2 linked regions of the Homo sapiens genome follow. The protein of the gene in region 1 purifies or fractionates together with the protein of each later gene. This does not show direct contact. Each region holds a gene or a part of one and is shown in the gene's direction. Other genes may lie near its edges.

Region 1 (3,705 bases):
TTAATCATAGTCTTAAGAGGAAGATATCTAATTCATAACTTACTGTATGTAGTCATCAAAGAATATGAGAAAAAATTAACTGAAAATTTTTCTTCTGGCTCTAGGAATTTGAAGCCTACATTAATGCTTCTGGAGAACATGGAATTGTGGTTTTCTCTTTGGGATCAATGGTCTCAGAAATTCCAGAGAAGAAAGCTATGGCAATTGCTGATGCTTTGGGCAAAATCCCTCAGACAGTAAGAAGATTCTATACCATGGCCTCATATCTATTTTCACAGGAGCGCTAATCCCAGACTTCCAGCTTCCAGATTAATTCTCTTAATTGGAACCTTAGATTTGGCTTTTCCCTGCCACTTCCCAACTATTAATCCAAAGGTTTTTTTTGTTGTTGTGGTTGTTGTCATTGTTTTCAATTTGACTCTCAAATACTCTATTAAACTATGATCCACCACACTCAGAAGTATCATTTTCTCTAAGAGACTCAAAAGTGTATTAGGGAGAATTTATTTAAAAATAAAATAAATGGGATATTGTTTCTTCATATTAAATAGAAGTATTTCTCCAAAAAGCTGTTGGTTAGAACACTGAATTTATGTCTTACATTTCTGCTCTTATAGTTCTGCATCCACTTGTTTCATTAAGCAAACTTTCCCTTAAAGTGCAGGAAAGTGAAAAAATCCTAAGTGCACAGCTTGATAAATTATCACAAATTCACGTAGTGCATACACCCTTGTAACTAAACCTCCAAAACAAGATGCCGGAAGTTGCCAGTCCTCAGAAGCCTTCACAGTTACTGATCCTCCCACTCTGTTAAAGACTGTTCCTTCAGAGGACCCCTGTTTTCTAGTTAGTATAGCAGATTTGTTTTCTAATCATATTATGTTCTTTCTTTACGTTCTGCTCTTTTTGCCCCTCCCAGGTCCTGTGGCGGTACACTGGAACCCGACCATCGAATCTTGCGAACAACACGATACTTGTTAAGTGGCTACCCCAAAACGATCTGCTTGGTATGTTGGGCGGATTGGATGTATAGGTCAAACCAGGGTCAAATTAAGAAAATGGCTTAAGCACAGCTATTCTAAAGGATTGTTGAGCTTGAAAATATTATGGCCAACATATCCTACATTGCTTTTTATCTAGTGGGGTATCTCAACCCACATTTTCTTCTGCAAATTTCTGCAAGGGCATGTGAGTAACACTGAGTCTTTGGAGTGTTTTCAGAACCTAGATGTGTCCAGCTGTGAAACTCAGAGATGTAACTGCTGACATCCTCCCTATTTTGCATCTCAGGTCACCCGATGACCCGTGCCTTTATCACCCATGCTGGTTCCCATGGTGTTTATGAAAGCATATGCAATGGCGTTCCCATGGTGATGATGCCCTTGTTTGGTGATCAGATGGACAATGCAAAGCGCATGGAGACTAAGGGAGCTGGAGTGACCCTGAATGTTCTGGAAATGACTTCTGAAGATTTAGAAAATGCTCTAAAAGCAGTCATCAATGACAAAAGGTAAGAAAGAAGATACAGAAGAATACTTTGGTCATGGCATTCATGATAAAATTGTTTCAAATATGAAAACATTTACGTAGCATTTAATAGCGTTGTTTCAAATATAAAAACAAATACATAAAAATCTGGATTTTTATTTCTTCTTTTTTTTTTTTTTTTTTTTTTGAGATGGAGTCTTGCTCTGTCACCTAGGCTGGAGTGCAGTGGTGCAATCTTGGCTTACTGCAACCTCCACCTCCCACGTTCAAGCAGTTCTGCCTCAGCCTCCGTGTAGCTGGGATTACAGGTGTCCACCACCACGCCCGGTTAATTTTTGTATTTTTTAGTAGAGAAAGGGTTTCACCATGTTTGTCAGGCTGGTCTTGAACTCCTGACTTCAGGTGATCCACCTGCCTCGGCCTGCCAAAGTGCTGAGATTACAGGCATGAGCCAGCGCGTCTGACCTGGATTTATAAATAAGATAATTTAGAGGTTATTATTCACTTTATAAAAGGATTCTTTAGTTTCTATATAATTTATCATATAATTTATTTAGAATTTTATTTCCCCCATTAGATTTAAAACTCCAATTTACATAAAAAGTTGCCATAATAGACATCTGATCCATAAGTTTCCTGCACAGAAAGAAATACTCCATTATAAGAAGCATAGTATCTTTAAGAGAAAAACAACTCAAATGCTTAGAAGTACAGCTTTTTGCAGCACTGGAACCTGTGAGAAATTTTGTCCATGGAGTTTATGAATGAAGGAGCTATAAGATATCACAGACAAAGTCTTAGAATAAGAGCAAAGGAAAATTTGCTCAAATGTGGCCCTGAAAACGATTCAAAGGGCAAATGATTTCTGGATTAAAGTTAGTATATTACTGTCAAGCTCACTGGTAATAGGCTTATTAGAACCTTATGGGAAGAAGTGGTGGCCAGTGGTAGATTTCATCCGACAATAGATACTGTGTGCATATGTGCGTGTGCGTTTGTGCATGTGGCTGTGCTCATGTGTGGGTGCACACGTGTGCATTCATATGCGTGTGTGTGTGTGTGCGTGTGTTTATGAGAGTGTCCATTGCTTTCTCCCATGGTTACCTCCTTTAGAAAGAAGCAGCAGTCAGGAAGACAGATGTGAAGAGCTGGAGCATGTTCAGATGAGAGGAGACGGAACACGGGGACACACCAGCTTGAGCAAGGGACAACAGGGGAGGACTGATGACTGACTTCCCACCTTTGAGGTGCTAATGTGTGTGTGGTGGCACTGGATAAAAGATCAATGTTGGCTAGGCACCATGGCACACGCCTGTAGTCCCAGCCACTCTGGAGGCTAAGGCGGGAGGATTGCTTGAGCCCAGAAGTTGGAGGCTGCTATGAGCCGTGATCATGCCACTGCACTCCAGCAACCTGGGCAACAGAGTGAGACCCTGTCTCAAAAAAAAAAAAAAAAATGAAAAGTCCACATAACCTGAGCATCATGTGCCCAGAGCGTTGGGTGGTGTGGTCCCATTCCTTCCTTCCAGCGGCTTCTTCTGGCCACCTCAATGTCAGGATGTCCTGCTCACATATCAATACCATTAAAACCTGACTTCTTTCCCTGCACTGTTGAAGCTCCTTCTTGAGGCTCACATTATGGATATAATTTTGATTCTTTCTTCAGTGGTATAGATAACTACTTGTAACCTAAGAACAACTTGGTGAAAGTCCTCTAATACATTATTTTTTAAAAAAACACAAATCAATGAGCTCAACTTATTAACTAACTTTCATCTATTCATTTTTGAGCCATCCCTGTCTGATTGTGAATCTCCATGATTCCAACACTCTGAGCTGGGGATAGTGCCTACACAAAATAAAAAGAAGTGGAAAATTTTCAAACATCAGTTTATGCTGACAACCAGGCCATAATAGGTGCTCAATTACTATTGAATGAATGAATGAAAGTTCTGGCCAGGTACGGTGGCTCATGCCTGTAGTCCCAACACTTTGGGAGGCCGAGGCAGGTGGATCACTTGAGGTTAGGAGTTCGAAACCAACCTGACCAACATGAAGAAACCTTATCTCTACCAAAAAAATATAAAAAAATTACCCAGGCATGGTGGTGTATGCCTGTAATCCCAGCTATTTGGGAGGCTGAGGCAGGAAAATCACTTGAACCTGAGAGGCGGAGGTTGCAGTGAGCTGAGATTGTGCCACTCCACTCCAGCCTGG
Region 2 (3,826 bases), on another chromosome or scaffold:
GTGCCCAGATCAAGAGACGGAACCTTACAGACCCCAAAAGTCCACTTTGAGTCCCTTTCCAGTCACTGCCTTCATTACTCCTCAAGGATAACCATTGTTCTGACCTGTGTTAGTTTTGCCTGTTTTTTAACTTTACTGAAATGAAATGATACAGTGTATAGTTTTGTGTCTGGCTTCTTTCACTCATTTTTATGTTTGTGAGACTCATCCATATGTTACAATATAATTATAGATCATTCATTCTCATTGCTTTATAATATTGCATTTTATGAGCATATTACAATCTGTTTACTTCGTTGTGATGGATATTTGAGTACTTTTCAGTTTGGAGTTGTTAGGAAGAATGCTGCTATAAACATTCTGACACTTTTTTGCTGAACATATGTATGAATACATCTGTTGGATATATCCCTCCCTAGAAGTGAATCACTGGGTCATAGTGTGTGTACATACACAGCTTTAGTAGATTCTAAAATAGAAAACATTCTAAAATGAGAATTTATATATAGTTATGTGAGTTTACTCTCTTAAATACGAAAATAAGGCTCATTCTTAATATGAGATGTGACTTTAATGAATGGTTTGTTAATAAAACATTAGAACATGTTTTATTAGAACTTTCTGTAAAGGGCCAGGTAGTAAATCTTTTAGGCATAGGGGCCATGTGGTCTCTGTTGCAGCTGCCGAACCTGCCATTGTCGTGTGAATGCAACCTTAAATAATATGTAAGAATGAGCATGGCTGTGTTCTAAAGAAACTTTATTCAGCGGACACCGAAATTTGAATTTCATGTGTTACAAAATACTACTTTTCTTTCACTTTGTTTTCAGCCATTCAAAAATATAAAAACCACTCTTAGCATGTGAGTCAGACAGAACAGGTGGTGGGCCGGATTGGGTCTGTGCATCCGAATGATTTTTATCCTTTTAAGTCACCTTGAGAGACTGACTGATTTCAGCGGTGCTGCCATTGCTAAAACCATCTTTGAATTATTTGGAACTTCTTTCAGAGCCAGTTTACATGCCTCAAAATGAAAATTAGTCTTCCTGTATTTTTACTCATTTTTGATTAAAAAAAAAGTTTTTATCCAATTTGATCACACACCTCATTCTACTGAAATCACTCCGAGTGACTTTTGGCTGTTTCCAAAAATAAATTGACTCCAAAGGATGAAGATATGTGATCACTGACAGGAGGTTTAATGATGTGCCATAGGTTCTGAAGAAAATTCCTAAAGAGGAATTCCAAAAGTGCTCTGAGCAATGGCAGCGCCCTTGGAATAAGGGTGTAGCTTCCCGAGGTGACTGACTGGCTGGAAGGAGGCAGCCATCATTTGGATGTTTAAATACTGGTATGTTATTTAAAAAAACAAAACAAAACAAATCAAGCCGATTACATCAGTGTTAGATTGTTTTTACCCTAACATGAATGACCCATGGAAAAAGTAGCTAATTTGGAAGACCCAATAATCTGAATGTCTTTTATATTCAATTCAGTAAAGATTATTATATTAGTATTTATATCTCCTTAGTTATGATTTTCTTAGGCCAATATAATATGATTTAATCTCTCACTGGAAAACATGAAGGTGTAGCCATGCCACATATATCACCTTTGGTTAAAGTTGCCCAAAAATACCTAAAATTAGTGATAAAAAATTATCATTCTTCTAAAACTTACAATAGTATTGTCTGATTTATCTTAAGTACTCATTGTATTTCCATCATACTCTGTGTTTCATTCTGTTAATGATTGCTGCATTGTATTCAAATATTCTGTTTATATTCTATACATTTGTTACTGGAACTCTGCCACATCGGTGGTTAAAAAATGTTTGTTGAACTAAAGCAGTTGTCTTGAAATTTATCTTTCTCCTTCTTGTGCCCTGGAATCCCTGCTAGGTAGATAATTATGAGCATAGTCACTATCACTATTTAATATGTCCAGAAAAATACTTGATTTGGGAACTTTTTTGACAATTAAAATGAGTTTGAGAGATTTTTGTGTAATTTGATTATTTAGTATTAAGTTTTTCTAGTTAATTAGATAAATGTTATATCTAGTTTCTGTTAGCACTGATTATTGAGACTGTATGGTGCTATTTTCTTTCAAGAACTGCAGTTATCCAAATGTACAAACTAAAATGTTTCACTTTGTTTTTCTCCTACTTTAGTCCACCAATCGATTACTTTGATGTATTTAAAGAATCAAAAGAGCAAAATTTCTATGGGTCACAGGAATCCATCATTGCTTTATGTACTCACCTGCAACAATTGATAAGAACTATTGAAGACCTAGATGAAAATCAGCTGAAAGATGAGTTTTTTAAACTTCTGCAGGTAAATGTGATCATTAATCTTCTGAGTATGTTTTATTTAAACAGAAAATAAACTGCTATACAGTTAACAAAACATGTAAATATTTTTCTTTGCTATAATTGATGATTTTTTATCTAGTGGTGTTAAAAGATGAAAATCCATTTAATTGCTAGAAATGGGTTTGAAATATTTTTCTGCTCTCACTGGCTATGATTTTAGTGGCAAAGAAGTTATCTGACTTCCTAGCTTCTGTCATACTTGAGAGAATACTTCATAGTAATTTGCTTAGCTTTTGTCATGCTTGAAAGAATTCTTAATAGTAATTTGGTCTCCCAGCTGACTTGGGTGTGTGTTGGCTCTGTGGCTAATTTGTGTTTGGACCTGAGGCCTGTCACTTAATTTCTCTGGGCCTCAGTTTCCTCCTCTGTTCAGTGAGGATAATGTGTACTGTGTAATTTGATGTGAGAATTCAACTAGATGCTTGCATGTGAAGTGCTGAGCACAGAGCCTGGGATACAGCCTGCTGTTAGCATCGGTAGGTGATAATACTCGGGTATTCAGTTGGCCCATTAATACAGTTTCATTACATTTCTTTATCTTGTATTCAGTTTAGTTTTTAATTCATGCAAACATCCTGAAATTTACAACACATTATTAGAATCAGAACTATTAGGAGACGTGGTACACAGCAGTATCCCCAGCCCTCACATTTTCCAGAAAAAGTGAGGAAGACTTTCAAAAAGAAATGTTAGAAAGTGCTATGAAGAGAAATAAAGCAGGAAAAGGGCGTTGGGAATGTTGGAGAAGGGATCAGGGCTGCCAGGGAAGGGTCCATGGAGGCTGAGGCCACAGACCTGAAGGCAGGGAAGGAGTAAGTCAGGTGTATGTCTGCGGAGTACATGGAGAGGTGAGAAAAATTGCAAGGAAACCCTGTAGTTACTGAGAGGTAGCGGGGTGGAAGGGACACAGAACGGCTTGTATTAAATAAATTTTTACTAAAAGTGAAACAGAAGCCATCAGAGGGTTTTGAACAGAGAGGTAATGCTATTTGACTATTTCAAGGAATGTTTCTGAGAATAGACTGCAGGGGCTGAAGGTGGAAATGGGGAGAGCTGGTCTGAAAATGACTTGGGGAGGGAGGTTGGGGCCAAGTTGGTAGCATAAGAGTTAGTGACATCACCAGAGCCTGGGTGTTCTTTGAACATAGAAGCTACAGAACTTGCTAACAGATTATACCTGGAGACGAAGCCCTGGTGAGACCCCGAGGGCAAGCAAAGTCACAAATAAAGGCATATTTTGAGTTCAAAACAAAAATTGTCAGGACATTGTTTTGTTTTTTGAGACAGAGTCTCGCTCTGTTGCCCAGGTTGTAGTGCAGTGGCACGATCTCAGCTCACTGCAACCTCCGTCTCCCGGGTTTAAGCAATTCTCCTGCCTCAGCCTCCTGAGTAGCTGGAATTACAGGCGTATGCCACCACACCTGGCTAATTTTTGTATTTTTAGTAGAG

The links.
Region 2: the proteins of UGT1A3 (region 1) and DCPH1 purify together in Homo sapiens (affinity purification with mass spectrometry; one large-scale study listed by BioGRID and IntAct). This does not show direct contact.

What each region holds. Positions count from the first base shown.
Region 1 is NC_000002.12:233,766,930-233,770,634, forward strand, and holds part of UGT1A3 (UDP-glucuronosyltransferase 1A3 precursor), read left to right. Parts: intron 1-104; coding exon 105-236; intron 237-919; coding exon 920-1,007; intron 1,008-1,290; coding exon 1,291-1,510; intron 1,511-3,705. Other genes in the region: UGT1A8 (UDP-glucuronosyltransferase 1A8 precursor), read left to right, coding at 105-236, 920-1,007, 1,291-1,510; UGT1A10 (UDP-glucuronosyltransferase 1A10 precursor), read left to right, coding at 105-236, 920-1,007, 1,291-1,510; UGT1A9 (UDP-glucuronosyltransferase 1A9 precursor), read left to right, coding at 105-236, 920-1,007, 1,291-1,510; UGT1A7 (UDP-glucuronosyltransferase 1A7 precursor), read left to right, coding at 105-236, 920-1,007, 1,291-1,510; UGT1A6 (UDP-glucuronosyltransferase 1A6 isoform 1 precursor), read left to right, coding at 105-236, 920-1,007, 1,291-1,510; UGT1A5 (UDP-glucuronosyltransferase 1A5 precursor), read left to right, coding at 105-236, 920-1,007, 1,291-1,510; UGT1A4 (UDP-glucuronosyltransferase 1A4 precursor), read left to right, coding at 105-236, 920-1,007, 1,291-1,510; UGT1A1 (UDP-glucuronosyltransferase 1A1 precursor), read left to right, coding at 105-236, 920-1,007, 1,291-1,510.
Region 2 is NC_000006.12:151,462,280-151,466,105, forward strand, and holds part of DCPH1 (damage-control phosphatase ARMT1), read left to right. Parts: intron 1-2,173; coding exon 2,174-2,339; intron 2,340-3,826. UniProt on the Homo sapiens protein: Metal-dependent phosphatase that shows phosphatase activity against several substrates, including fructose-1-phosphate and fructose-6-phosphate.